Linked DNA regions of Homo sapiens: all the other regions are linked to region 3. Evidence: fine-mapped expression QTL. A gene starts in region 3. Each other region holds a variant in brackets. All regions are shown on one strand. Distances are from middle to middle. Region 1 has its middle 48 kb from the start of PRSS54. Region 2 overlaps CNOT1 (CCR4-NOT transcription complex subunit 1). Region 3 holds the start of NDRG4 (NDRG family member 4). Region 4 overlaps LINC02137 (long intergenic non-protein coding RNA 2137).

The links. PIP is the estimated chance that this variant, and not a neighbour inherited with it, causes the effect. A credible set is the group of variants that fine-mapping cannot tell apart.
Region 1: its variant is the best candidate, but not a certain one, in a credible set for the expression of NDRG4 in unexposed skin (GTEx, PIP 0.68).
Region 2: its variant is the best candidate, but not a certain one, in a credible set for the expression of NDRG4 in iPS cells (HipSci, PIP 0.73).
Region 4: its variant is the best candidate, but not a certain one, in a credible set for the expression of NDRG4 in atrial appendage (GTEx, PIP 0.52).

The regions. Positions count from the first base shown.
Region 1 is chr16:58,339,566-58,347,172 of GRCh38, reverse strand. No RefSeq gene overlaps it. Among named protein-coding and RNA genes, the nearest start is that of PRSS54, 48 kb to the right of the region's middle. The variant G/A (reference allele first, on the strand shown) is at 3,842.
Region 2 is chr16:58,566,223-58,573,829 of GRCh38, reverse strand. The region is part of intron 16 of CNOT1 (CCR4-NOT transcription complex subunit 1); the gene reads left to right. Among named protein-coding and RNA genes, the nearest start is that of SNORA50A, 10 kb to the right of the region's middle. The variant ATG/G (reference allele first, on the strand shown) is at 4,204.
Region 3 is chr16:58,495,946-58,503,552 of GRCh38, reverse strand. It overlaps NDRG4 (NDRG family member 4), which reads right to left and starts at 3,410. Exons shown (of 15, transcript NM_001242835.2): 1 at 3,284-3,410. The coding sequence starts at 3,304. It also overlaps the pseudogene RNU6-103P. RefSeq lists enhancers at 1,459-1,508, 1,101-1,917, 1,918-2,735, 2,736-3,552, 6,811-7,366 and 1 more and silencers at 3,432-3,491, 3,502-3,581.
Region 4 is chr16:58,426,214-58,433,820 of GRCh38, reverse strand. All of the region lies in intron 1 of LINC02137 (long intergenic non-protein coding RNA 2137), which reads right to left. Among named protein-coding and RNA genes, the nearest start is that of LINC02137, 8.7 kb to the right of the region's middle. RefSeq lists silencers at 7,387-7,466, 7,537-7,607. The variant A/G (reference allele first, on the strand shown) is at 3,650.

The DNA of each region.
Region 1 (7,607 bases), 160 kb after region 3:
CAAGGTTTAGGGAAGCACACAGCCCCTGAATGATCAACCTGGCGGTCGCTTGCCTTGTATTCTTTTAGGAGTTAAAAATCTTTCTGAAAGGTGCTGGGTGAATTGTGCCTTTGTGATTTGTTTGGTGGTGCTCTGAAAATTCCTTGTCTCCGTTCCTAATTTTAGAGCCAGCAGCTGTCACTGCTTTGTTCTAACAAGTCAGTAATTTTCCATTCTCCTTGCTTCCTTGGATTTCCTTTCTATATCTAATCACTCACTCTGCAGGGGCTTCTAACTTGGTCTTCTCACTTAAAAATTTTTATTATTAATTTTTAAATTTATAATTGGACCTTGTCATTTCTTTTAAAACCCCAAAGAAGGATGTGCATGTCACATATTCTGTCATTTGGTGTTTTGTTATTTCTGTAAGTTAGTAATTGCTTTTATTTTTGTATTTTTAGTAGAGACGGGGTTTTGCCAAGTTGGCCAGGCTGATCTTGAACTCCTGACCTCAAGTGATCCTCCCACCTCAACTTTCCAGTGTTGGGTTTACAGGCTTGCCCACCGCGACAGGCCTAGTAATTGCTTTTAAAAAGTTAAAGTATTACCTTTTTATTTTACCTGTATACATTGTACTTATACAAACCTTCTTACAGTGTGTGATAGACATAAAGTTTTATCATAAAATGTTATGGCATTCGGTGTTTTGTTTGTTCGTTTGTTTGTTTGAGACGGAGTCTCGCTCTGTCGCCCAGGCTGGAGTGCAGTGGCGCGATCTCGGCTCACTGCAAGCTCCGCCTCCTGGGTTCACGCCATTCTCCTGCCTCAGCCTCCCGAGCAGCTGGGACTACAGGTGCCAGCCACTGCGCCTGGCTAATTTTTTTTGTATTTTTAGTAGAGACGGGGTTCACTGGGTTAGCCAGGATGGTTTCCATCTCCTGACCTCGTGATCCGCCCGTCTCGGCCTCCCAAAGTGCTAGGATTACAGGCCTGAGCCACCATGTCCAGCCGGCATTCAGTGTTTCTTATCTTCATTGCGCCCAGCCGGCATTCAGTGTTTTTTATCTTCATTGCAGCAGGGTTGCTTTTGTTTGTTTCTTATTTGGCCATTTATTTATTTTTAGGATTCTATGGGTACCAACAGAATTCCTTGAAGGTGTTTTGCAGGTGGTATCATAACTTTATTTTTCTATTTTAATTTTGCAGTAGTCTGGGATTTGCTTCAAATTAATCCAGATGGAGGGGAAGGGGATGTAGGTTAATGAAACAAGACTGGCCATGGTAACTGTTAACGTGGATCGTGGGAGCATGGTGGTTCATTATACTACTCTGTCTACCTTTGGGTATGCTGGAAGTTTTCCATTATAAAAAGCTTTGAAGATCTTTACATCAAGATTATTTCTAATAATCTTCCTTTAATTAAGATAAACTCATTGTACAAATATTGCCATCTATAGGTGGAAAATATATTTGTTTTGATTTGGACAGGCTGCAACATCAAAAAAAGGAAAAAAATTATTGTAATCTTGATCTCTAACCTGACTCCGAAATATTATTAATGTTACTACTCTTTTCTCAAAACTCGCCATTAATATGAATCACTAGGTATAACGCACATAAATTTCTTTATGAATCTCTGTTCTATATATAGTAAAATTCATGTTTGAAAAAGGTCAAATTACATTTTAGTGTAAAGGCTCAGGACTTTTTAAAAAAATGACTTGTGATTTTTGAAGGTTTGAAAACTCCAAATCAGAATATAATTTAAAAATGTAGTTTTGACCCTTTACATATTTTTGATGACTTGAGAATGTATCTGTATTTTAAGTCTCATATTCGTGTGAACTTGACATTTTCACACAGGTCCACAGAACGGAAAGTTGCTGCTTTCAAATTTGGGGAAAATATAAGAGAAACTTCTTTAAATCATATACAGTAGACAAAGATACCTTATGAATACCAGAAACAGGTGACAAAAATAAATACCCTAGGGGTTAAGCAGAATGTTCTGGATATCGAACTTGAAGCTTATAAGCATTCTTTGTTTGTTTGTTTGTTTTTTGGTTTTTTTTTTTAGATGGAGTCTCACTCTGTCACCCAGGCTGGAGTGCAGTGGCGTGATCCCGGCTCACTGCAACCTCCACCTCCCGGTTCAAGGGATTCTCGTGCCCGGGTTCAAGCGATTCTCGTGCCTCAGTCTCCTAAGTAGCTGGGACTACAGGTGCACGCCACCACACCTGGCTAACTTTTGTATTTTGAGTAGAGACGGGGTTTCACCACGTTGGCCAGGCTGGTATTGAAATCCTGACCTCAAGTGATCAGCCCACCTTGGCTTCCCAAAGTGCTGGGATTACAGGCGTGAGCCACCGCGCCTGCCCGGCCTAAAGCATGTGATCATTCTGATACCAAGATAAGCACAGAGTTGCCATCAGAGCATATTTCAGGCCTCCCTTCCTGTCCTGTGGTTACAGTTGCATGTTCACTCAATCCTCCATTGTATTTTGAAGAGTAAATTGTACTCTACATAGTTGTTGTGTCTTTCAGATACAATTTATAATACAGTTGGGCCTATTAAAATTCCAAGAGTAACAACCTTTTCCAAGATGACCTTGCCCAACATTTTTGTGTTATTAATTGTGTCTGTAGGACCTCATCTGCCCCCTTCTGCTCTGACAAGATATTCTGAGAAGGACAGAGTTGCACTCAGTAACGAAAACATGTTACACGGATCCTGTAAGCCAAATCTATTGACCAGGAGAGTTGGGACACACACTTTCACATTTTCTGGAACAACTTGTACTTTCTGGAAAAACCTATATAACTGGCTGGCCCAGGCTCTCTTATTAGAATTTCTAATATTTTAGGGTGACAGCTCATTTTAAGGGACCGCATCACACTGTCAGACTGTCAGGGTCTTCTTGGGTGTGATACCAACAGCACAGGCAACAAAGAAGAAACAGGTAAATTGGGCTAAAATAAAAATTTAAAACTTTTGTGCATCAAAGGATGCTATCAACTGAGTGAAAAGGAAATTAATGAAATGGGAGAAAATGTCTGCAAATCATATATCTTAAAAGATGCTAATATCCAGAACATTTTTTAAAAACCACTGTAACTCAACCACAAAAAAACCAAGTAACCAGATTTAAAAATGGACAAAGGACTTGAATCAATATTTCTCTAAAGAAGACATAGACACATACCCGTTTAGCACATGAAAAGATGCTTGGTGTCATTAACCATTAGGGGAATGCAAATCAAAACCACAATGAGATACCACCTCATACCCATTAGGAGGTCTATTATAGAAAGAAAAGTAAACAGACAAACAAGCAAAAACCCAACACAGAATATAAGTGTTGATGAGGATGTGGAGAAATTGGAAGCTTTGTGGGCTGCTGGTGGGAGTGTGAAATGATGCAGCTGCTGTGGAAAACAAGATGGCAGTTCCTCAAAAAATTAAACATAGATTTACCATATGACCCAGCAATTCCACTTCCGGGTATATACCCAAAAGAGCTGAAACAGATTGGGACTGGAACAGACATTTGTAAACCAATGTTCATAGCTGTAGTAATCACAAATAGCCGAAAGGTAGACACGACCCTAGTTGAATGAATGGATAAACCGAATGTGGTTTATAAGCACAATGGAACATTATTCAGCCTTAAAATAGAAGGAAATTCTGACACATACTACAACGTGGATAAACCTTCAGGATGTTATGGTAAGTGAAATAAGCCAATCACAAAAAGGCAAATAGTGTATGATTCCACTAATATAAGGTACCTAGAGTAGTCAAATTCACAGAGACAAAAAGTAGGATGGTGGCTGCCAGGAGGGCTGGGGAGAGTGGGAATGA[G/A]GAGTTAGTGTTTAATAAATGCAGAATTTCAGTTTTGCAAGATTAAAAAGTTCTGGAGATGGATGGTGGTGATGACTGCCCAATTCTGTGAATGTGCTTAATGCTACTGAACTATACACTTAAGATGGTTAAAATGGTAAATTTCATGTCATGTAAATTTTACAACTAAAAATGAAATAAATTTAAAAATGTAAAATAACCTTGAACAAAATTTGCAAATAAAAAAAATTGTCTGGTTGTTGAAAAAGGACTGATTTTTGAGAGAGACAACTTCTAAAATAAATGTTACTTAATTTATTTTAGAAGTTAATACTTATCGTGTTAATTCTTATCAATTTTGAGACAATGCTTTTTAACAGCATCCTCAGAATTTCTCTATTTGCCTAGCAGTGTACCAGATACTGCTGTGGATGGTGTAGGTACATGAAAGATTAGCTTAGCCTTCCGGGAGAGACAATCTTGGTGGGAAAATAAGATATGTATATAAAAAAGTGAGTAACCAGAAAAGACTGCATGACACTAGGCTTCATATGAGTGTTAGAGAGAATAAGTTTAAGAGAGAAGAGAAGGCTGGGGCCGATGGCTTACGCCTATAATCCCAGCACTTTAGGAGGCCGAAGCAGGTGGATCACTTGAGGCCAGGAGTTCGAGACCAGCCTGGCCATCATGGGGAAACCCTGTCTCTACCAAAAACACAAAAATTAGCCAGTTGTGAGGGCGGGTGCCTGTAATCCCATCTACTCTGGAGGCTGAGGCATGAGAATCGCTTGAATCCGGGAGGTGGAGGTTGCAGTGAGCCAAGATCACAACACTGCACTCCAGTCTGGGCATCAGAGTGAGAGTGTCTCAAAAAAAAAAAAAAAAAGAAAGAAAGAAAAGAAAGAAAAAGAAAAAAAGTTCCATGGGGACAGGGCAGGGGGAATGAAGGGGGGGTGCTGTCTGGGGTGAAAAGGACCTAAAATTGAGAATTATGACAAATTTTGACATTGCTGTGAATTTATATCATGTAGTGCAGAAAGTAACAAATACCATAAGAAAGCCAAGAAGTAATAAAGAGAGCTAAACACTGGCACCTGAGTGGCCACGAAAATCAATGGGACAGACTAGAGGGCTCACAAAAACCCAAAAGATGATTTGTTTTTTGATAACATGGCATTTCAAATCAGTAGGGAAAAGGTAGATTATTTAATAAGTGGGTTGGAAAATTTTTATGTTGAATTCCAGTGTACTCTTCACACCCAAATATGTTCCAAATGGAGCAAAAATTTCAATACCGTAAAACCATTAAAAGTACTTGAAAAAATGTTAGAAAAAAAGAGTGTTTTTAAAATCTTGAAGTCAGGAATATTTTTCCAAGCTAGATTGAAAATCGAGGAGCCTTAAAGAAAAAGACTGATAAATTTTACTATAGAAAGGTTAAAACATATGCACGGGAAAAACTTATATCACAGATTTATGGTATAAACTATGTATTTATATATATTTAGAGACAGGGTCTCACTCTGTCACCCAGGCTGGTAGCCATACTCACTGCAGTGAGTTTGAGCTCATTGCAGCCTCAAACCCCTGGGCTCAAGCAATCCTCCCACCCCAGCCTCCTGAGTATCTTTGACTACAGGTGCATGCTAATGCACTCGGCTAATTTTTAAAATTTTTTCATTTTTATTTTAGAGACAGGGTCTCAAACTTCTGAGATTATAGGGATGAGCCCCTTTACTTGGCGTTAATTAAATATTTTTTTTAGGCTGGGCACAGTGGCTCACGCCTGTAATCCCAGAACTTTCGGGGGCCAGGGTAGGCAGATCGCCTGAGTCCAGAAGTCTCAGAATAGCCTGGGCAACATGGCAAAACCCCATCTCTATGAAAAATAAGAAAAGTTAGCTGGGTATGGTGGTGCAAGCCTGTAGCCCCAGCTATTCAGGAGGCTGAGGTGGGAGGATCGCTTGAGTCCAGGAGGTGGAGGTTGCAGTGAGCCGTGATTGCACCACTGCACCCCAGCCTGGGTGACAGGGTGAGACCCTGTCTCAAAAATTAAATAAATAAATAAATTTTTTTAAATGGCATGATCTATTTTAAAGAATTTATTTAATACATAACCAGTTCCTGTTAATTAATAAGGTCAACAAATCAATAGAAAAATGGACAAAGTGCAAGAATAAGCAGCCCCAGAAAAAGAAGCAAAAATGGCTTATGATGTCTGACTGAAAAAAAAAAGGCTGATAAACTCTTACTGAAAGAAAAAAATAGCATTAATTTTTTTACGTATCAGAACGGCAAAGATAGAGACGTCAATGATACATGCATGAGGGGGAAAGACACTCATATATCGACTGAAGAAACGAGTGGATTTGGGCTGTGGGCTGGGAAAGGTAGTTTTAATACAATTTTTTTTTTTTTTTTGAGATGAGTCTGTCTGTCGCCCAGGCTGGAATGCAGTGGCGCGATCTCGGCTCACTGCAAGCTCCGCCTCCCGGGTTCACACCATTCTCCTGCCTCAGCCTCCTGAGTAGCTGGGACTACAGGCGCCCACCACCACGCCCGGCTAATTTTTTGCATTTTTAGTAGAGATGGGGTTTCACCGTGTTAGCCAGGATGGTCTTGATCTCCTGACCTCGTGATCCACCTGCCTCGGCCTCCCAAAGTGCTGGGATTACAGGCGTGAGCCACCGTGCCCAGCCTTTAATACCATTTTTAATATGAGAGAGAGGAAGAAAGATTTTGAATGAGAGAAGTTCCAGCACTGTGTGGAAGGAAGACAGTCACCTTACTTGGGTTAATTGAGGGAGATCTCGTAGGGATGTTGTGGGGGAAACATTTAACTGGGGCTGGAAAAATGGGGAGGTTTTGAGAAGAAGAGAGGAAGAGCCTTCTGAGTTTGAAACAATGTCTAACTTAAATTCTACATTTTCTTTTTCTTTTCATTCTTTTTTTTTTTTTTTTTTCTGAGACAGAGTCTTGCTCTGTCACCCAGGCTGGAGTGCAGCGGTACGATCTTGGCTTACTGCAACCTCTGTCCCCTAGGTTCAAGCGATTCTCCTGCCTCAACCTCTTGAGTAGCTGAGATTACAGGCACATGCCACCACACTCAGCTAATTTTTGTATTTTTAGTAGAGACAAGGTTTCACCATGTTGGCCAGGCCAGTCTTGAACTCCTGACCGCAGGTGATCCGCCTGCCTCGGCCTCCTAAAGTGCTGGGATTACAGGCGTGAGCCACTGCGCCTGGCCTAAATTCTACATTTTCAAAAACTGAATCAAGCTGGGAGGTTGAAAAGCTCTTTTATTAAACAGAGTAGGGCCATGAAAACAACAGAATATTCTAAAATCTCAAAATTCTTTTGGCTTTCAGATCACAGGAAGTAAGTTCTGTGAGCAGCCAAAAAAAGAACTCTCTGGGGACTTGGTCATAAGAAGTTCCAAGGCAATTTCCGATGTGCATGGTCCCTCCAATCTTGATCCCTTGGGATGCAATGGGAAAAACTCCTAACTAAATACCAGATCAGCTGCCTCTAGCCACAGCTGTGCTACCAAAGGTGGCACAGGCAACTCACCAACCCCCGCTTCTGCAAACTGAGGGAACTGGACCATCCGAGCTCTGTCCTTTCCAATACCAAAATTATCCATTGTGGCCTTGACCACCTGTTGTCAGGGCTAGAGCAGAAACAGTGACTGTGGTTTTCCCGGTGGCAACAATGTGGAGTGCAATCCAGATTTGAGGAAAGGGAAGGAAAGGAGAGAAGGAGCCCTCTGCAGGCTATTATTCTTTTT
Region 2 (7,607 bases), 70 kb before region 3:
CTTCTCGGTTCCTTGAATTTTCCTAAAAAGTTTAAGATCAGCTAGTTAAGGCTGGGTGCGGTGGCTCATGCCTGTAATCCCAGCACTTTGGGAGGCCGAGGCGGGCGAATCATGAGTTCAGGAGATCAAGACCATCCTGACTAACACGGTGAAACCCTGTCTCTACTAAAAATACAAAAAAATTAGCTAGGCGTGGTGGCGGGCGCCTGTAGTCCCAGCTACTTGGGAGGCTGAGGCAGGAGAATAGTGTGAACCCAGGAGGCAGAGCTTGTAGTGAGCCGAGATCTCGCCACTGCACTCCAGCCTGGGCGACAGAGCGAGACTCCATCTCAAAAAAAAAAAAAAAAAAAAATTGCAAAACAGCCTACTGGGAATGTTGAGAGGATTACGTTGAATTTTTAGCTCATTTGGGGGAGTACTGCTGTCTTAATAACATTGTCTTTTTAATCCGTGAATCTGGGATGTTTTTCTACTTATTTAGGTCTTTAATTTTTTTCTTTTTTTCTTTCTTTCTTTTTTTTTTGAGATGGAGTTTCACTCTTGTTGCCCAGGCTGGAGTGCATTGGCATGATCTCGGCTCACTGCAACTTCTGCCTCCCGGGTTCAAGTGATTCTTCTGCCTCAGCCTGCCGAGTAGCTGGGATTACAAGTGTGCACCACCATGCCCCACTAATTTTTGTATTTTTAGTTGAGATGGGGTTTTGCCATGTTGGCCAGGCCGGTCTCAAACTCCTGACCTCAGGTGATCTGCCACCTCAGCCTCCCAAAGTGCTGGGCTTACATGTGTGAACCACTACGCCTGGCCTCTTTAATTTTTTTCAGTGATATTTTTTCATTTTCAGTGTACATCTTGTACTGATTTTGTTAAATTTATTAATTATTTTATTTATTTAACTTAATTTTTTTTTCTTTTTTTTTTTTTGAGACAGAGTCTTGCTCTATTGCCCAGGCTGGAGTGCAGTGGTGCGATCTTGGCTCACTACAACCTCTGCCTTGCAGGCTCAAGTGATTCTCCTGCTTCAGCCTCCCAAGTAGCTTGGACTATAGAGACATGCCACCCCTCCCAACTAATTTTTGTATTTTTAGTAGAGATGGGGTTTCACCATGTTGGGCAGGCTGGTCTCGAACTCCTGACCTCAAGTGATCTGCCTGCCTTGGCCTCCCAAAGTTGCTGGGATTACAGGCATGAGCCACCACGCCTGGCGTTAACTTAATTTTTGTGTGTGTGTGTATGTCACCCAGGCTGGAGTACAGTGGCATGATTATGGCTCACTGCAGCCTCCACCTCCCCCCTCAAACTCTGAAGTAGCTGGCATTACAGGTATGCACCACCATGCCCAGCTAATTTTTTATTTTTTGTAGAGACAGGATTTCACTGTCTTGCCCAGGCTAGTGTTGAACTCCTGGGCTCAAGGCATCCTACCACTTTGGCCTCCAGAAGTGCTGCGATTGATTACAGGCATGAGCTACTGCACCTGGCCTATCTTTGTAGATCTATCTATTATTGAAAGTGGAGTACAGAAGTATTCAATTTTTTTTTTTTTTGAGATGGAGTTTTGCTCTTGTTGCCCAGGCTAGAGTGCAGTGGCATGATCTCGGCTCACCGCAACCCTCCGCCTCCTGGGTTCAAGTGATTCTCCTGCCTCAGCCTTCCAAGTAGCTGGGATTACAGGCATGCGCCACCACGCCTAGCTAATTTTGTATATTTAGTAGAGATGGGGTTTTTCCATGTTGGTCAGGCAGGTCTCGAACTCCTGACCTCAGGTGATCCGCCCGCCTTGGCGTCCCAAAGTGCTGAGATTACAGGTGTGAACCACCACGCCCAGCCCAATTTTTTTTATTTTTAATTTTTTATTTTTCTGAGACAGAGTCTGCCTCTGTCCCCCAGGCTGGTGTGCAGTGGTGTGATCTTGGTTCACAGCAACCTCCGCCTCCTAGGTTTAAGCGATTCTTGTGCCTCAGTAGCTGGGATTACAGGTGCTCACCATCACACCCAGATGATTTTTAAATTTTTAGTAGAGATGGGATTTCACCATGTTGGCCTGGCTGGTCTCAAACTCCTGACCTCAAGTGATCCACTCGCCTCAGCCTCCCAAAGTGCTGGGATCACAGGCATGAGCCACTATGCCCGGCCTCCTATTATTTTAACTGTCTTTTTCTCCCTTCAGTTTTGTCAGTTTTTCCGTCAGGTGTTTGGGGCTTTGTTTTTAAGTACATGTGTTTTTATAATTGTTACATACTTCTTTATTTTATTATTGTTTTTGAGATGGAGTCTTGTGTCTCGCTGTGTCACCCAGGCTGGAGTGTGGTGGCACTGTCTTGTCTCACTGCAACCTCCTCCTCCCACGTTTCATTGATTTTCCTGCCTCAGCCTCTGGAGTAGCTGGAACTACAGGCGTGCGCCACCATTTCCAGCTAATTTTTTTTTGTACTTTTAGTACAGATGGGGTTTCACCATGTTCCCCAGGCTGGCCTTGAACTCCTGACCTCAGGTGATCTACCCACCTTGGCCTCTCAAAGTGCTGGGATTATGGTCATGAGCCACCGTGCCCGGCCTTAATGGTTACATATTTCTGATGGATTGACCCTTACTGTAAAATGTCTTTGTCTCTATTAACAGTTTTTTTCTTAAACATTTGTTTTGTTTGATACTAGTATAACCATTATAGTTCTCTTATGGTGGTTTGCTTGGTATATTTTTGTTTTGTTTTTTGTTTTGTTTTGTTTTGTTTTTCTCAAGCTATATGTGTCTTAATTTGAAGTAGGTCTCTTTTAGAGAAGGTATGGTTGGAGCATGTTTGTGAATTTGTGTTTGTGTTTACTACATTCTGCCTGTCTTGCATTTAATGTATTTATTGATAATATAGGGCTCTTTTGCTGTTAATCTTTCTATCTCTTGTCACTTTTGTTCCTCTGTTCTTCCATTACTGCCTGTCTTACTGTTAAATAGATATTTTGTAGTGTACCATCTTAACTCCTATGTTTCTTTGACTTTATTTTTTGTTTTGTTTCTTAGTGGTTGCCTTGGGTATTAAAACTAACATTTTAACTTACTCCAATCTTTTAGTTTCGGTAGGATCCAAAAATTTCATTTAGTATGGCTTTGTCCCCTTCCCCTTGATTTTTGCCATTATTGTCATGCAAATTATACCTTTATACATTATGTGATCACCAAAAGGTTTATAATTCTTGCTTCATGCAGTTATTTTTTTGAGACAGGGTTTCATTCTGTTGCCCACGCAGGACACGATCACAGCTCAGTGCAGCCTCAACCCTCCAGACTCAAAGCGGTCCTCCCAGGTAGCTGGGACCACAAACATGTGCCACCACACCTGATAAATTTTTTAATTTTTTGTAAAGTTGAGGTTCTCAGTATGTTGCCCAGTCTGGTGTCGAACCTCTGGGCTCAAACTGATCTCCCGTTTTAGCTTCCCAAAGTGTTGGGATTACAGAAATGAGCCACTGCACCCAGCCCAGTTGTTCTTTAATTAGGAGATTTATACTGTCCTTTGTATTTACCTGTGTATCTTTGCCAGTAGTTTTTCATACGGATTCAGGTCAGTGTTCAGTGTTTTTTCATTTCAGCCAGGATTCTTGAATTTTTCTTGTTTCAGCAGGACTGCTAGCAATGAATTACCTCTTTTTGTTATCTAGGGAATATCCTAATTCCTCCTGTATCTTTGGGGATAGCTTTGCCAGATGAAGGATTCCTGGTTGGCATTCCTTTTCTTTGAACATTTTGAATATGCTCCCCCACTGCTTTCTGTCCTCCATGGTTTCTGATGAGACATCAGCTGTTAATTTATTGAGTATTGTATGTGATGAGTTGCTTCTATCTTGCTGCTGGTAAGATACTCTCCTTGTCTTTTTTCTTTCATCAGCTTGATTATGTTATTCTAGGTATGAATCTCTTTGAGTTTATTCTACTTAGAATTTATTGAATTTCTTGGGTGTCTAGATTAATGTTTTTAATAAAATTTATCGGGTTTTCAGTCATTATTTCTACAAATCTTTCCGTACCTTTTTCTTCTCTCCTTGTACTCCCATTATGTTTGTGGTGGCACACTCAGTAGTGCTCCACATGTCCTTGAGTTCTCAGCCCCCATCCCCCCACCCCCTTTTTTTTCATTTTCTCAGGCTGGATAATTTTAATTGATCTATCTTCAAATGAACTATTTTGTCTGCTTGAATGTGTGGTGGGAC[ATG/G]TGGTTAGTGAAACTTTATTACAGTTACTGTACTTTTTCTGTTTGGTATGTTGTAGAGTGTAGTATCTGATGGGAAAAAACGAATTTCTGTTTTTTGGTTTTTTTTTTTGCTAATTTCTATGGACATGCTTTTTGAGATAGTATTCCTATGTTTTCCTTCAGTTCTTTTGATATATTTTCTTTTAAACGTGTTCTGTAGTGGCTGGGTGTCATGGCTTCAGCCTATAATCCCAGCAGCACTTTGGGAGGCCAAGGTGGGTGGATCACTTGAGATCAGGAGTTTGAGACCAGCTGGCCAACATGGCAAAACTCCGTATCCACTAAAAATGCAAAAATTAGCCAGGCATAGTGAAGGGCGACTATAGTCCCAGCTACTTGGGAGGCTGAGGCAAGAGAATTGCTTGAACCCAGGAGATGGAAGGTACACTGAGCCGAGTTTGTGCCACTGCACTCCAACCTGGGCAGCAGAGTAAGACTCTGTCTCAAAAACCAAAATAAAATGAAAATAAATGTGTTTGGTAACTGATTTGAATTCCTTGTCTAGTAAGTCCAACAGCAGTGTTTCCTCAAGGATCATTTCTACATAGCTTTCCAGCCCTTTGCATGGGACACCCTTTTGTTTCTTTACAAGTCTTGTAATTTTTTTGTTGAAAACAGACAACTTTAAATAATATGGCATTTCCTGGAATCAGATCTTCCTTCTTCAGCAGAGCACATTGTTCGTTATTGCCCTTTTTTTGTTTAGTGACTTTCCTGAACTAATTCTGTTCTTTATAATAGTTGGCTACTGAAGTTCCTGCTTGGTTAGCCTTGTTGTCAGCTAAGATTGACGAGATTTTCTTAAACCTAATCTTGGGAATCAATTCAGCACTAAGCCAGGCAATTCACAGCCACCTTAGTCTTTACTTCCAAAGTTTTTTTTTTTTCTCTCTTTTTTTTAAAATCGAGACGGAGTCTCGCTCTGTCGCCCAGGATGGAGTGCAGTGGCACGATCTCGGCTCACTACAACCTCCACCTCCGGGGTTCAAGCGATTCTCCTGCCTCAGCTGAGTAGCTGGGATTACAGGAGCATGCCACCACGCCTGGCTAATTTTTGTATTTTTAGTAGAGACAGGGTTTCACCATGTTGGCCAGGATGGTCTCGATCTCTTGACCTCGTGATCTGCCTGCCTTGGCCTCCCAAAGTGCTGAGATTACAGGCTTGAGCCACTGCACCCGGCTCAAAGTTTTTCTTTACAGATTTTTTTTTTTTTCTTGAGATGGAGTTTCGCTCTTGTTGCCCAGCCTGGAGTGCAGTGGCACAATCTCGGCTCACTGCAACCTCCACCTCCTGGGTTCAAGTGATTCTAATGCCTCAGCCTCCCGAGTAGCTAGGATTACAGGCATGCACCATTACGCCCAGCTAATTTTGTATTTTCTTTAGTAGAGACAGGGTTTCTCATGTTGGGCAGGCTGGTCTCAAACTCCCGACCTCAGGTGATTCGCCCGCCTCCCAAAGTACTGAGATTACAGGCGTGAGCCACCGTGCCCGGCCTTCTTTACAGATTTTTAGTTAGCCTGTATGTAGTTTGCTCCAACTGTAGTAGTCTTCCACCTCAGATAGGCAATAAGTTTAAAACAGTTACTTTCAAATGTTTTTTGTAAACACCTCATGCAGAAAAGGTTTTTGTTTGGGTCAGTTTTCAGGTCAAATAAATCCAACCTTGTCATTGTGTTCTCACACAGACTCCCTATACAGATGAAATAATGACAATTCACTGAGAAGGAGGCTTTGAAGATGTTTTAACCCTGTTTTGATTCACCTCTCAGGCTTCTGGTTTTCATTGTGATTGAGGGCTGTCAGCTTCTAAGCTGGCTGTGGAGCTGGAGATGGGAATAATAGGGCAAATTAATGTGCTAGAAAACTTGATAGTCTCTTGAATAAAAATTTCCCACTTGTTATAAGCCTTTGGTTAACTTCCAAAGTTCTGAAAAAGTTGATTCAGACACTTTTCTAGTTGCTTTTATGAAGGAGAGGAAGTCAGCCCATACCCTGTCGTTTTGCTTTATGAGAAGGTTTTTTTTTTTTTTTTTGAGATGATGTCTTGCCTCCAATTACCTGGGATTACAGGTATATGCTACCATGCATGCCTATTTTTTAAATTTATTTTTATTTTTAATTTTCTGTGGAAATGGGGCTTCACCATGTTGCCCAGGATGGTCTCAAACCCCTGAGCTGAGGCACTCCTCCTGCCTTGGCTTCCGAAAGCGCTGGGATTACAGGTATGAGCCACCACGCCCGGCCAGCATTATTTCTTTTTGTTGTTGTTTAAATAGTCTCACTCTATTACCCAGACTAGAGTGTAGTAATGTGATCATGGCTCACTCGTGGGCTCAAGCAGTCCTCTCTGCATCCTAAAGCGCTGGGGTTATAGGCATAAGCCACCTATGCTCAGCCTTTTTTTTTCTTTCTTTCTTTTTTTCTTATGAGGTCTTACTGTGTTGTTGTACAGTCTGAAGTACAGTGCATGTTCACAGGCACAATCATAGCTCAATGCAACCTTGAACTCCTGGCTTAGTCTTCCTGCCTGAGCCTTGTGAGTAGGTGGTCCTATAGACGCATGCCACCATGCTTGGCCTGATGGTCTTTTTGGCTGTTATAATTAGAGAGAAACGTGCCTCTAATACCTAGTAGTGTAGAAACCAATGATACTAGGCTGGGCGCGGTGGCTCACAGCTGTAATCCCAGCACTTTGGGAGGCCGAGGGTGGGTCACCTGAGGTTGGGAGCTCAAGACCAGCCTGATCAACATGGAGAAATCCCATCGCTACTAAAAATAGAAAAATTAGCCAGGCGTGGTGGCGCATGCCTGTAATCCCAGCTACTCGGGAGGCAGAGGTTGGGGTGAGCCAAGATCTTGCCATTGCACTCTGTCTGGGCAACAAGAGTGAAACTCCGTCTCAAAAATAAAAAAAAGAAACCAATCATACTGGCTAAACATTCCACAGTGCACAAGACTGCCTTGTACAACAAATAATTATCCATTCCAAAGCACTCTGCTCTATAAGCTCTAAATGTTCTACAGTTTCAAGTTCTAAAGTGTAACCTTTTACATTTATACATTTTAATCCATCTGCAGTGGAATATTCTGGAAAGTTAATTGCCTGTTAAAATTGCGCAAAATGTTTTTATTGTAAGAAGGCAGTTTACCTAACTTCCAGGTTTCAATTAATTTCTTTAATTGATCTATTAGCAGTACTTGTTGAAAAATTTAATAAGATAATGTATCCAAAGTATTTTGAGTCCATACTGATGATAATAAATGCCAGAGAAGGAAAGTTATTTCAACTAATAAATATAGAAGAATTACGATGGAGTTGTAATCTTTAATGTGTGTTAATAGTAATGGATATATGTTTGAAG
Region 3 (7,607 bases):
ACCAGCCACTGGTTTGTGCTGTCACTGTCCTCCGCCCTTGAGGGTCCAGGGAGGCTGTTTTTCTCCATCTTGCAGCAGCCCCTCCTGGACAGCTCTGCCTCCCCAGCCCAAGTCCCTCTCACACTCAGAACTCTCAGGCACTTCCTGCTGCTGCAGGGGAACGGCCTCAGTGGTCCTGCCTGGAATCCTCAGAAAACACCCCGTGCCAGCCAAGCCTAGCCCCGACCCCGGCACTGCCCCTGGCTCCCACTCTAAGGCTCTTGCGCATGTGGTTCCTTCCACCTTGAACGCCCTTCTGTGTGAGCCCAGCATCCTCAAGGGCTCCCTTCAGGCAGGCCCGGGTCAGACCCCCCTCCCCATCCCCTCTAGAGGCCTTCTGCAGAGCCTGCTCTGGGATCCTCTTGAGTTCACACCTTTGGTTTTGCTGCTCAAGGTCATTACTTCCTCAGGAAGACCTGGTTCTACCCCTTACTTGTGACTGAGCATGTCATGTTACTTCTCTGCTGTGCCTCAGCCTCTCCATCCAGAACCACCTCACAGGGACTTTGCGGGAACTAGACAAGCCAATGTTTGTGGAGCATTTAGCACTTGGAGAAAGCCCCAGAAAGGGGGCTGTTATGCTAGGGCATCCCTGAGCCTTGGGAGAATGCCCTTCTCGCTGTTCCTTTGCAAACTGGGCATTCTTAGCCACTCGGATGGGCAAACTTCAAGAGGGGCCATCTGAGCTAAATAAACCGATCCTCTCTGCATCATTGTGAGCCCTGGGAACCACGTGAGTGGCCCAGTGAGTTGGAGGTGGGGCTGGGGTCAAGGACATGAAAGAAACATCAAGCGACTGAGCACCTACTGTGTGCCAGGCTTCCTGCATGTTACCCAAGAGACAGGAACCCTAGTCCCTGTTTTGCAGGTGAGGACACTTTGGTTTAGAAAGAACCTGAGTTCCTGCCTCCAAATGGGAAAGGAGATTTAGACAGCAGAAGACAGCTGCTCAGGGGCCAGCATTAGTGGGTCTGGTCTCAGAGGACCACTGTCCAGGCCTGTGTCTCCAGTGTGGAGTGACAAGCTGGCACCAACCTGGTGGCCAAAGGCTCTACCCTGGAGAACACTCTTTGACTTGCAGGCCCTTTTTATTTCCCTGTTGTCCTCCAGGAGAGCCCAGGTAATGAGCCTTAGGGTGAGCCATGCGGCTGATTGCACCACCCAGGGGATGAGGAGGCCACACCAGGGCTGAGAGGGGACAGACCACACAGCCCCTCCCATCCCAGGCCTATCCTTTCTCGGGGCCCATCAAATCCAGGAACACTTCCCCGCCACTGACCACTGACCCACAGTTTTCTCATTTACTTCCCACATAGGCCCAAGCCATAGAGGAGGAAATTGAGGCTAGGAAAGGGAAATGACTTGCCCAAGGTCAATCCCAGAGTAGGGAGGGCAGGCCCTGCCAGGTGCCAGTCTCAGGGGCCAGGGCGGTGCACTGAAGGCTGCATGTTCACAGGAGATCAGGTTCCACCCGAGGGAGCTCCTGACCAGGCAGCCCTTTCACAGCCACCTGTGAGTTCTCTCAGCTCTGGAGGGTGGGGCTGCAAAAGAACTGCAATGCGCCTCCTGCTGCATAAAGGACAGTTATCCTCCTGGGGTCAGACGTCGAGAGCCCAGGGCGGTGCCTTCCAAACCCAGACCCGCAGCGTGCGGGTCCGCCTGAGGGGTGTGAGGGGTGTCTGCTCTCTGCTGCTGAGGAGGCCCCACTGTCTTCTCCCAGCCCTGGTGTGGCCGCCCCTGTCCCCATCCCCCTGAGGTGACGTGATCAGGCTCTACTAGGGCTCATCTCCCAGGATGGGAAGGGCTGGGGCTGGGCCTGGGCGTCACCGGGCTACCTGTCCTACGAAGTCCAGTGACCTTCGCTGAACCCTGCTGCGAACCTCCCTAACGCCTTCTCTCACCCTCTGCGGAGAGCTCAGGACTCAGTTCAGCCTGATCGAAGCCAAACATCCCCGTCCCTTGGAGCGCTGCGCAAGGGCAGCCCCACAAGGGCCACAGCGCGGTGCACTCTGAGGCCCCCAACCCTCAGGGCCGAGCACTCCCATTGGCTCTGGGTGACGTCAGAGCCGGCCCCGCCTCCAGGTAGGCGCAGGCGGGAAGCACTGCGGCAGCAGGGGAGGGGGCTGTGGCGGCTCCTCTCGGTCGGTCCGTCTCCCCTCGCCTGTGACCTTGAGCACTGGAGGGGAGTGGGGCTTTGAGCCGGGCTTTGCGCCGGTGTGGGAGTTGGTGCTGGTGGTGCTGTGGTTCGGCCTGTCAGCCGCATCAATAATTCAGGGGACAGGGTCTGCATGGGCGGGCAGGTGCTGACGTCGTCACCTCCGTGCGTGCGGGGTGACCTATCGTCTGCGGAACCGGCAGGGCAGGCGTGTGGGGCCCGGGGGTGGGGGTGAGTCTGCCCCTGCCTCTCCCTCCTGAGGAAGAATGGGGCCGGGGTACCTGATGCCCCGGCGAGAGGAGGTGCCCTGGGCTCCACCTGGGGTCCCCTAGCCCTGCCAGCTTCACGGCTCCAGCGTTGCCTTCCCCCACCTACAAAATAAGGCAGGCAGGCAACCCCTCCTCGTTCCTCCCCAGCAGGGACCCCTGCCTGAAAGGCTGTCATTCCTGTGTGGCCCAGACCTCCTTGCCTCTGCCCGGCTGGCGCAGCAGAGCCCTGGGAACTGTGAGGTGGCTCCTAAGGAAGAGGCCGCCTGTCCTTCCCATCACACTGGCGCAGCCATCCAAACAAGCTAGACGGCCGCCCACTGGGACGGCAGCCCCTGCACGCACAGACCCGGCACGCACACTGGGCACACAGCCTCGGGGGCTCACCAAGGACACCCCCGCCCCCTGGCCTGATGGCCCCAGGCATCACCAAGGCAGACACCATCCAAGCGCACACCAGAGGGCACACGGTCAGAGGGACATGCAGGCACTAGCGCCCGGGTCCACACGGGCAATGCAGCCAAGTCAGACAGTGCCTTCCACGTTCCATTTCCTGCAGATATGTCACCCACCCCCCAACCACACGCTCCCCCCAGCCCCTGCTATGGGCTCTGACTAGCAGCTGCCCCCAGCCACTCCTGCAAACAGGATCACCAGGGAACCTGGAGCACTCTGGCCGTGTCTCAGTGACCCCAGGGTGAGGCTATTTGAAGGCCGGGCTGCCACCAGATGTGGGTTGAGGGGGGCACTTCCTCCCTGCGGTGGGTCATAAGGATGCACCATCCTCCCGGCCCACCTTGATGCCCGCAGCGCCCTCACTCACCCCATCCCAGCACTCCGGCATCTTGCCGAGGGAGGGAACCCGCCTCTACCAGGAAGGACAAACAAAGGCCTGAGTCACTCGGGTCCAGAGGGCGGGGGCAGCTCGAGTGGGAGATGGTCGGCTCTGTGATGGGGCACAGCTCCTGGGCCATTTATACAGGGATCCTGGCCCAGCCTAGCTAGCCCCTCCTCCCCGCAGGGTTTCTGAGCAGCCACTCGCTTACCAGGAGCCCCAGCTCCCATATTGGCTGCTGGGAGACAAGCCTGGCTCCAATTGGCTTCTGAAGTCCTCCTTGCCCCAGCCCTGTCACTGCTCCTCCCACCCCAGCCACACATCATCCTTGATGGTCCCCAGCCCCTGCATCCGCCCCCAGCACATAGGCACACGCCAACAGCTGCAGCTCACACGGGATCCTCCGAATACAAAAGCCGAGACCACACGTACAGACTCACCCATGTCAGGTACACACAGGGTCGTCACAGACATGCACAGCTTACCAATGCGGGGCAGGGCAGGGTGCATGGGCACTGCCCAGACAGCTAGAGCCCTTGACCCACACCTTGGGGAGTATGGAGGGCCCGAGAGGGCCCCAAGCCCAACATCTTGGGGACCAGACCCCCACGCCCAGCCTTCCCATTAGGAAGGTTCCATCGCTTAACCTTGTGGAGGCCTGGGGAGCTGCTGCTTTCTGGGGCAACTTGGGTTATCACCCTGCTTCAAGGGGCTGCTCCTTCTCCACCCACCAGGGATGAAAATCCCACCTTGCCCACGCAGATACAGGGGGTTTCCCCACATGCTGAAAATGGAGTTTGGGGGCCGGGGGCCAGGGGCCCTGGGCAGATAGCAGGGCCAGGGGTATGGTCAGGCACACACCAGCTCTGCCCTCCCCACCCTCACCCTGCTGCCAGGGGCTCCAGACCACCAGGGAGAGGAAGCGGGGCTAGGAGGCAGCTTGCTGACATTGACATGCCCACCTCCTGTAGACCCACCCGGCCCTCGTTCCCAGAGGCAACCAGTTTGGGGCTTGGCTCTCGGGTCTCTGGGGAGCAGAACACTAGGTCTATCTCAGGCTCCGTGCCCTGTTCTCCTGGGCAGCAAGGATCTGGGTGGCGAGCTCGCCCGAGGCCTGCAGGTGGAGTGAGCAGAGGAGAAGAAAGGCCAAGAAGTGCACAGGAGGAGAGGAAATAGGCCAGAGAGGGAAGCAGAGGAGGGGGCCCAAGGCTGGGAGAGCAGGAGCCACAGAGAGAAGGGGGCTGCTGCGTGCCTATGCTCCCAAATCCATGAAGATTATATGTATTATCGTTGCAACTGCCTGTGCAGTAGGCACTGCTGTTTCTCCCATTTATATATGGAGGCTCAGAGAGGTTGACTGACTTGCCCAAGGTCACACAGCAAAGAAGTGGCAGACCTATGAGTGGGATCAGGGTTTGGCTGGCAAGACCTGACCCTGCCTTGTCTGGCCACGATAACTGCACAACTGCCAGAAAAGGGGCCAACAGTTTGGAGAGGCACACAGACTGCCCCATTTCTCTCCTGCCAGGGCCTGGGCAAGGGTGGGGTCAGGGCACAGAGCCTGAGATAGCCCTAGTGTCCTGCTCCCCAGATACCCGAGAGCCAAGCCCCAAACTGGTTGCCTCCAGGAACAAGGGCCGGGTGGGTCTACAGGAGGTGGGCATGTCAACGTCAGTAGCTGCCTCCTATCCGGCTTCCTCTCCCTGTCTTGCTGAAGAAGGAACACGCCACTCACCCCAGCCCATGCTGATGGCCCTGCATGCTGACTGGCTGCCCTTGGAGAAAGTGGTCATCTCTTCATCTCTGGGTACCTGCTGACCTGGTCGACACCTGCTATGTACACTATTGCTGGTCATGTCCTCTGCCTGGGGGCACCTATTCCATCTCTCACCTCTTACTCTGGAGGCCTAGGGAAGACTGACAGGCCCTGTGCTCCCCAGGGCAGCAGGAAGTAGAATGGGGAGTCCCCCTGGCCCGTCACCTCCTGGCCATGCTCCCCATTCCTGCAGGCACTGTGGCACAGGAAGAGGCTTGGAAAACTGAGGCACAGCCCTGCCCTCTGCCCACAATGCCCTCCCATGTCCCCCAAGGCCCCACCCAATCCTACGCCCACTCCAACCTCTGACCCCTGAGTGGCCTCTCCCCACCTTTGGACCCAGGTGACAAGCTGACCTGCGACACTGCCCACTCCAAGCCACAGCCTCCATGACTGCTCAGCTGTCTGCAAACCCACAGACGTGGGTTTAAGTCCTTCCTGGCCCCCTACCAGCCGGGTGACCTTGGGCAAGATTTTTTTTTTAACCTCTCTGTGTCTCAGGCTTCTAATTGTAAAGCAGGGACTGTGTGCCTTTCTCACCAAGCTGCTGTGAGAATCAGAAAAAACTGCAGAAATCACTCTAGATCTGACCCCACCCCTGCCCAGGTCCTGGCAGGGGAGAAATGAGGCAGCCTGTGTGCCTCTCCAAATTGTTGGCCCTTTTTCTGGTGGTTGTGCAGTTACAGTGGCCAGACAAGGCAGGCTCAGGTCTTGCCAGCCAAACCCAGGTCTTGCCAGCCAAACCCTGGTGCCACTCATAGCTCTGCCACTTCTTTGCTGTGTGACCTTGGGGAAGTCAATCAACCTCTCTGAGCCTCCGTATGTAAATGGGAGAAACAGCAGTGCCTACTGCACAGGCAGCTGCAAGGATAATACATATAATCCTCATGGACCTATGAGAAGGGATGAGGAAACTGAGAGTTGGAGAGGTTAGGTAATTTCCTCACTTGGCTAGTAAGCAGCGGCAGCTACTAGTACCCCAGCACTCTGGGTGGGCCTGAGGTCTCAGAATCAAGAGTGGCAAACACTATGTTCAAATGTCCTCCATGTGCCAGGCTTTCTTGGAGTGCTTTACCCATTCTCTCTATCCCTCTTTTTTTTTCTTCTTCTTCTTTTTTTGGAGACATGGTCTTGCTCTGTTGCCCAGGCTGGAGTGCAATGGTGCAATCTCTGCTCACTGCAACCTCCGCCTCCCGGGTTCAAGCCATTCTCCTGCCTCAGCCTCCCAAGTAGCTGGGACTACCAGCGCCTGCCACCACACCTGGCTAATTATTGTATTTTTAGTAGAGATGGGGTTTCACTATATTGGCAAGGCTGGCCTCAAACTCCTGACCTCAAGTGATGCACCTGCCTCAGCCTCCGAAAGTGCTGAGATTACAGGTATGAGTCACCACACCCAGCCTTTATCCTCTTTTTGGAAAATATTTTTAAGTATGGAAGGCTTCACGAATATGTGGGTCATTCTTGTACAGGGGTCGTGCTCATCTTCTCTGTATCATTCCAATTTTGGTATATGTGCTGCTGGGGCGAGCACTCATTTTCTCTCTTAATACCCTCTTTACAAATGAGGCAAATAAAGCACAGGGAGGTTTGGTAACCTGCCTAACATCACACAGCTAGTGGGCACAGAGCCAGGAACCACACCCAGGCAGTTTGGTGCTAACTCCACACTCTGGTGGCCACTCGTCACGGTCAGCTGAGTGTCCATATGAGGGGCCCATGGGCACCATCGCCTTAGAAACACTCGGGAGGTCCGTGCTGCCTGTCTCCCTGAAAATGCGGTAGACAAATGGAGTGACTTGGGCTGGAGGTCACATGCTTGGAAGTGGCGGGGCCAGAACCTAGGTCTGTCTGGCTCATGTTAGTCCCTCTGCTATACTACCTCCCCCACTGGCTGCCCCCACGGAGGCAGGGGACAGTGACAACGCCTGCCATAGTGAGCAGGAGATAAAATCCCTGCCAGGTCTTGGCCCAGATAACGACCATCCATTCTTGTGGCTGCTTTTCTAAAACAAAAAACGAAAAAAATGCTGCCTCCATGTGGTGTGACAGGAGTGGACAGGAAGGTGCCTTTTAATGCAACCTGCCTTTTACCAAGCAGAGGATCCTGAGAACCGGGGTCCCACACACCCTGGGCCCCGCAACTCCGGGGCTGCAGCTCAGAGGGCTCAGGGGCCAGAGGCAGCTTCGCAGCAGCAGTTGGGAACCCAGAGGTATGGTAGGGTCTCCTCCACGACTCCAGGATTCCCCTCTGCCTGTCCCCCACACCGTGGGCCTGTGTGCTGGGGCTGGCATCAGCACTGTTGGCGTCGGCCTCCCACACTGTGGGACCAGTGTGTTGAGGCACCGGCTGGCTGCTCTGAGATTTTACTTGGCCAACCCCCTCCTCCAGGGCCCATTTGCCTGCATAGCTCATCCTCATTTGCAGCATGGAGGACAAAGAAAATCCCCTGGTGAGCCTGCCCTGATCTCCGGCTGTCCCTTCCCACCAGCCTG
Region 4 (7,607 bases), 70 kb after region 3:
CTAAATCCTAGCTGTAGAGACAAGAGCAACTCCATTTTGGATGCATCCCTAGGTTTGACTTCTGATTAGCTTAGTCCTGTGAATGCCTCCTTGTTTCTACTTTATTTCCTGTCCCTAGTGTAAGAACACGTCAACCTTGATGTTATCGCACAAATTGTGGGCTGTGACACACACAGTGTTCTTGCCTGTTCTGGAGGGGTGCCTGTAATTTTCTTGCTGGAACACATGTACCCTTTCTCTATGGTATACAAGCCTGAGGTCTTGGGAGTAACAGTGGGAGATCTACCTGTATTATGGCCACCCAAGACCACGCTTCTGTCTGTGAGTTCCCCCAATAAATCATCCAATACTGACAAACAGGATTTGTCTGCCTCCTTTGTTTCTTGGCTCCTTTGGCATTTGGGGATCGCTTTGCACATATGGCTCCGTGATAGTTAATACTGAGTGTCAACTTGATTGGATTAAAGGATGCAAAGTATTGATCCTGGGTGTGTCTGTGAGGGTGTTGCCAAAGGAGATTAACATTTGAATAAGTGGGCTGGGAAAGGCAGACCCACTCTTAATCTGGGTGGTCACAATCTAATCCGCTGCCAGTGAGGCTAGACTATAAAGCAGGCCAAAAAAAAAAAAAATATATATATATATATATATATATATGTGAAAAGACTAGACTGTCCTAGCCTCCCAGCCTACATCTTTCTCTCATGCTGGATGCTTCCTGCCCTCAAGTATCAGACTCCAGGTTCTTCAGTTTTGTGACTTGGACTGAATCTCCTTGCTCCTCAGCTTGCAGACAGCCTATTGTGGGACGTTGTGATCATGTGAGTTAATTCTTAACATATATATATATATATATATATATCCTATTAGTCCTGTCCCTCTAGAGAACCCTAACTAATATAGGCTCTTTCACGGAACACCAGCTCTGCACATATCGGCTGTGGGAGATCTTTAGCCAGTCACTTGGCCTGCCTGGCCCTTGATTTTCTCATCTGTAAAATGGGGATAATAATAACACCAATGCTTCCGGGTGGTTGTGAGGATTATATAGGACAATGCAAGTGGGACCCTATGGAGGTTTTGAGACCCATGTGGTCCAGTCTCGGGGTAGAGTCTAAAAGAACAACAGCCCATTGGAATTCCAGTGAGTGCTCATGTCTCCTGAAGAACATGATGGGGGTCTAGGCGTATATGCCACAGCCACTCTGGGCTCATCACCGTCCTCTGTAACACATGCAACTCCCATAAGATGCTTATCCTCCTCTACAGAAAATCTCCTTCTTCTACTCATGTCTGCTCCACCCCTGCCACCTTGCCAGGCCTCTGCCCTGCAGCCAGGGGCCCAATTACAGAAGGCAGCACTCATAGCATGTTCAACGGGTGAGTCTGCACAGCAGTCCTGTTGCCACCTGCCATGAGGTGTACTGCCTTTGACCTTGCTTCCTCGGGACAGTTCTTTCCCCTTCTGTCTCTCAGAACTTGTCTGGCAGTGGCAAGATGCTTTAGGGAGGGCGTGGAAGCAAACAGTAGGCAATGCCAGAGCCCTCTTTAGTGGGCCTGGGACAGCTGGGAACATTCCCACCTTCATACCTGTGCTTCTATTACACATGGGAAGCATTCAGCACAGGTGCAAGCTCTTAGGTGGCATTTTTAGAACTGCCCAACGTAAAAACTCTGCTGCAATTTTCTATCTAGGCCGAGAGTCGGCTTGAGAAATGCATCCAGTCAAAGATGAAAGAACTTGGAAGGAAGCAGTCTGGGCTGCCTTCCCTGCCCCTGCGGAATGGATTAGCCTGAGTGGCCACACACAAACAGGACAGGCTGGGTCTTGATGTTTTCCAGGTGACAGATCAGGGTACATCTGCAAACCTTGACTGAACTAAGTCGGAGGAAGGATCAGGACAAGCAGCCCAGTGGCAATGTTTTGAAACCAGTAAGCACCCAGGCAGCAAGGCCCTGGACATGGTGCAGCCTCGTTCCCCAAGGCTGAGAGCTGCAAGCCCGAGAGCTGCCTGGGAGGCCAGTCAGTAAGGGGCACCATGACATATTGGAAATGCCATGAGAAGGAGGCAACCATATGAATTAATCAGAGCTCTTCTCAGGGAAAGCCGTGTGTGGGGTAGGGAGGGGTGCTTTGGTGAGCCTCTTGGAGTGAGGGAGGAAAGATGGCAAGGATGTGAGTAAGTAGTCATGACAATTGCTTGCTGGACCCTATGGCAGGTGGCTGAAGAACGCCAGGGCTTCTGTTTTGCTGAGTTAGGGGCTCAGGACAGTTGAGGAGAGGCTGGACCTTGTACCAGCCCCTCCTTCTGCAAGCTCTGACTCAGGGACAGCCTCTTACATGCCCATTAAACATCTGGCCCAGGGATACTAGTTTCAGGGTTGCCTGTCGAGGTACTCCGCAGTATCACCAGGCTCTGGCTAAAGGAACCAGTGTCTCTGGGCCTTTGTTACCAGCTTCATTCTGTCTCCTGGTAGAAGGTGCTTGTTATGAGTTGAACTGCATCTCTAAAATATATGTTGAAGTCCTGGTGTGGTGGCTCATGCCTGTAATATCAGCACTTTGGGAGGCTGAGGTGGGTGGATCACCTGAGGTCAGGAGTTCAAGACCAACCTGGCCAACATGGTGAAACGCTGTCTCAACTAAAAATACAAAAATTAGCCAGGCACAATGGCGCATGCCTGTAGCCCCAGCTACTCGGGAGGCTGAGGCTGGAGAATTGCTTGAACCTGGGGGGTGGAGGTTGCAGTGAGCTGAGATCACACCACTGCACTCCAGCCTGGGTGACAGAATGAGAATCCATCTCAATAAATAAATAAATAATAAAAAATATATGTTGAAGTCCTCACCCCCATATCAGTAAATGTGACTTTATTTTGGGAATAGGAATTTTGCAGATGTCATCAATTCAAGAAGAGCTCATTAGGGTGGGCTCTAATCCAATATGACTGGTGTCTATAAAAGGGAAAATTTGGCCACAGAGACAGCCATGCACAGAACGAAGAGAGCACGGTGACACACAGCAGAAGACCGTGTGTGACGATGGAGGCAGAGATCAGACTGACGCAGCTGCGGCCAAGGAAACCACCAGAAATTAGGAAGAGGCAAGGAAGGATTCTCCCCTAGAGCCTTCAGAGGGAGCGTGGCCCTGCTGACACCTTGATTTTGGATTTCTAGCCCCCAGAACTGTGAGAGAATAAATCGCTGTTGTTTTAAGCCACCTAGTTTGTGGTGTTTTGTTACGACAGCCACAGGAAAGGAATCCAGTGCTTCTGACACAAGAGTCGGGGAGCATTGTCCAGAAGCGTTCCTGTCTGGTAACGCACCTGCCATTGGCCAGAGTAAAGCCTGCACACAGAGCCCGTCCATGAGGAGGTTCTACAATGCACAGCCTGGTAAATTCTGGAGCCGATGACCCAGCCTCGGTTCCTGTCTGTAAAAGGAGGGGCCGGGATGGAATTAGCCCTCTTCAAATTCTAACTTGTTTCAGTTTTGTAAGACCTCCTATTCCTAGTCAGGACATAAAGACCCAAGGGACTGTCAACCATTGAGAGCTTGCTTGCCCTATACTGGGCGGGGTCCTAGGGGACTGATGGGGGCGTCTGTCTCATGGGAATGCAGCCTGTGGGCTCCCAGGACACCTCCTCT[A/G]CCTGCACTGGAGGAAGCTGGCAGCATCCAAGTGATATTTTGGTGGCTTGGCTGCTCTGGAACTAATGACAAAATAGAATTCCCAACATTAAACCAGTCCCTGCTGAGCTGGACTGTCCTATGGAGCTTTCCTGTATAAATATCCCTTCTGATCAAGGTGCGGTGGCTCACACCTGTAATCCCAGCACTTTGGGAGGCCGAGGCAGGCGGATCGTTTGAGGTCAGGAGTTTGAGACCAGCCTGGGCAACATGGTGAAACCCTGTTTCAACAACAACAACAACAACAAAAATTAGCTGTGTGCCTGTAGTCCCAGCTACTTGAGAGGCTAAGGTGGGAGGATCACTTGAGCCCAGGAGGCCGAAGCTGCAGTGAGCCAAGATCGTGCCACTGCATTCCAGCCTGGACGACAGAGTGAGACCCTGTTTCAAAAAAATAATAAAAAATAAAAAATAAATATCACTTCTTAGGCGTTAAAATCCCTGAGGTTGAGCCATTTCTGATATGGAGGCTTTTACCCTCTCTATTATTTATGATGTTATTTCTATTCACTTTCTTTTTCCCTATGAGATTTAAGGGCCAAATCCACCTGCTCTTTCCATTCTCCAAAAACTCATGGAAATGAAATGGCAACAAAGAACTACTCAGTAATTTGACACTGAAGATTCTCATCTCTCCCCATTTTACTTAGACAATGTGAAATTTAGGAGGGATAAAAGTAAAGTTCTGCCCCAATGTCAAAAACAAACCAATGGCACGAGAATAGGACAGCAGAGGCGTGACTGAAGACTGAAGCGCTCAGGTCATTTCTAGCTGAATGAGCACAGCTTAATGTGCAGTTCCCAAGGATGCTGATCAAACCCAGCAGAATGCTTACTATGCACGGGTCAGCAGTGTGTGGACAGGCAGGTCGTTCTGGGATTGACATTTTGAGAAGGTCATAGAAATATTAGACAGCAGCTGGAGGGCAGTGAGCGGGATGGAAACCGCTGTGTGTATGAGTGATGGTGCATGAATTTAGAAAATGAATTTAGTCTTTGAGCCAGTGCTTTGGTCTGAAGGTTTACATCTCCCCCAGCTGTCGTGACAAATTCATATCACCAAAGTGATGGTATTAGGAAGTGGGGTGCTTTGGGAGGTGATGAGGCAGAGCCCTCATGGAGGAGGTCACAGAGAGCTAACTAACCGCTTCCACCATGGGAGGACACAGCCAGAAAGTGCCATCTATGAACTAGGAAACAGCCCTCACCAGACAAGGAATTATTGTCATCTTGATCTTGGACATCCCAGCCTCTAGAACTGTCAAATGTAAATTTCTGCTCTTTATAAGCCACCCAGGGTATGGTGTTTTTTATAGCAGCCTGAACAGACTAAGATGCCAGCAATTTCATTTCTAGGTCTCTGGCTCAGTTTGCATCTTATTGTGGCGATAACAAATCACAATAACGAACTGGGCAGGCTAAGGAGCACAAATTCATAACCTCATAGTTCTGGAGGACAGAAGTCCAATGGGTTGGCAAGGCCACAATCCTGGAGGCTACAGGGAAGACTTCATTTCCTCGCCTTTTCCAGCTTCTAGAGGCCTCCTTTGGCTTGTAGTCCTTTCAACAATGGCATCACTCTGGCCTCTGCTTCTGTCACTGCATCTCCTTCTTCCCTTCTGCTTCTGCATCACATGGCCTGCTCTGTGACTCTCTTGCCTCTCTCTTACAAGGACCCTTATGATTATAATGGGCTTACCCCACAATCCAGGATCACCTCCCCCCACCTACCGCAAGAGCCTTAATTTAAGCACGTCTGCAAGTCTCTTGTCATGCAAGGTAACAAATTCACAGGTTCTGAGCATTAGCATGTGGGCATCTTTGGAAGGCCATTATTCTGTCCTCTACACTTGCCTACAGAATACACAAGTGTGCAAGGATGTAGGAACAATCATCTCAAACAATGAAAACACAGAGACAGCCTAACATCTGACAACAGGGTTCTGGTTGGATAATGACGCAGCCATTCTATGGAATATCACACAGCCATAAAAAGATGGAGGTAGGTGACATGGAAGGATGTCCACGATGTATTATTTATTTGTTTATTTATTTTGAGACAGGGTCTTACTCTGTTGCCCAGGCTGGAGTGCAGTGGCGTGATCTTGGCTCACTGCAACCTCTCCCTCCTGGGTTCAAGCGATTCTCCCACCTCAGCCTCCCGGGCAGCTGGGATTACAGACTTATGCCACCAAACCCAGCTAATTTTTGTATTTTTTGAAAGAGACGGGGTTTCACCATGTTGGCCAGGCTGATTTCGAACCCCTGACCTCGAGTGATCCACCTGACTCAGCTTTCCAAAGTGCTGGGATTACAGGCTTGAGCCACTGTGTCCGGCCCATGATGTATTTTTGAATAAGAGATAATTTTCAGAAATTCATAATTTATTTGTTCAAGAAATGCTTTCAATGCCTACTATGTGCCAGGAGCTGAGAACACACCAGTAAGTTAAACAGGAAGAATTCATATTCACTTTCTAAAAACTGTATACAGAAATATGTGTATGCATGGGGGAGAAAAGTCTTACCTGGAAAGTAAATGGTAAGTTGTTAATAGTGATTCTCAGGAGAGGAAGAGTGGGGCATGGAGATAGTGAGGATTTGCTAGGTTTATTTTGATGTTTTCATATGGTTTTATCTTTTCAACAAGCACTTGTTATTTCTGCTAAAAACGAAATTGAACTAAGGTACAGTTATCAAGACAAATTATTATGTGAACTCTAACTTCTTGATGATAAAGCTGTACCAATCTGCAAAAGAGAAAGAAGGAAGGAAAGAAGAAGAGAGGGAAGGAAGGAGAGAGAATGGAGACAAAGAAAAGGGGAAAGGAAAGGAGGAGAAAAAGAACAAGCTGATAAGTGTTAACTTGGAGAAGGGAAGTCTTGAGGGGCACTTTGCCAAGGCTCTTGTGGTTCAGAGTGTCCCTCCGTCCCCTGCAGGAACTGGCAGCTCCTCCAGATATATTTCTTTCTGTCCTCTCTTTGGGCACCTGGCCCTGTGCCTGTGCACAGTAGGTGATCAGTGACATATTGTTGACAAGCAAAGCAACAGATGGAAATGCTGGTAATAGTGGAGAAGCCACTTCATCAAGCCAGGGCGCATTTTTGACCCCCTAAGCCATCAGGCACATTTACCAGCCTCAATTTTTTCTTTTCTTTTCTTTTTTTTTTTTGAGAAACGGTCTCGTTCTGTTATCCAGGCTGGACAGCAGTGGTGCCATCATAGCTCACTGCAGCCTCATCCTTCCAGGCTCAAGCGATCTTCCCACCTCAGCATCCCGAGTAGCTGGGACCACAACCCCAGCCTTCATACTATACCAATATTTGCTTCCTTTCTTTTTTTTCTTTTTTTTTTTTTTTTTTTTTTTGAGACAGAGTCTCATTCTGTTGCCCAGGCTGGAGTGCAGTGGTGTGGTCTTGGCTCACTGAAACCTCCAGTTCTCAGAGTCAAGCAATTCTTCTGCCTCAGCCTCCCAAGTAGCTGGGATTACAGGCACCTGCCACCAAACCCGGCTAAATTTTATATTTTTAGTAGAAACGGGGTTTTGCCATTAGCCAGGCTGGTCTCCAATTCCTGACCTCAAGTGACCCACCCTCCTCAGCCTCCCAAAGTGCTGGAATTACAGGTGTGAGCCACCTTACCTGGCCCTCCCCTCATTTATAACCATTTCAGGTCAAACTCTGGTCCTTCCCAAGTCCCTGGAACTTCCTAGTTTCTTCAAGGCACAGATTCTGCTGTTTGGGGAAGTGCGTGGAAATTCTAGCTCACTTATTTCAGCCACAGTGGTCCGCCAGATGAACCTGTGGTTTGCTACTTCCTCACCCTGAACTGTAATCTCCGAGCTGGCCTTTCTGCCCTCTGCATGTGTCTCTGAGACTGAGGCTTTGTGGTGGGACGTGTGGCAGGAAGAGGAGGGATGA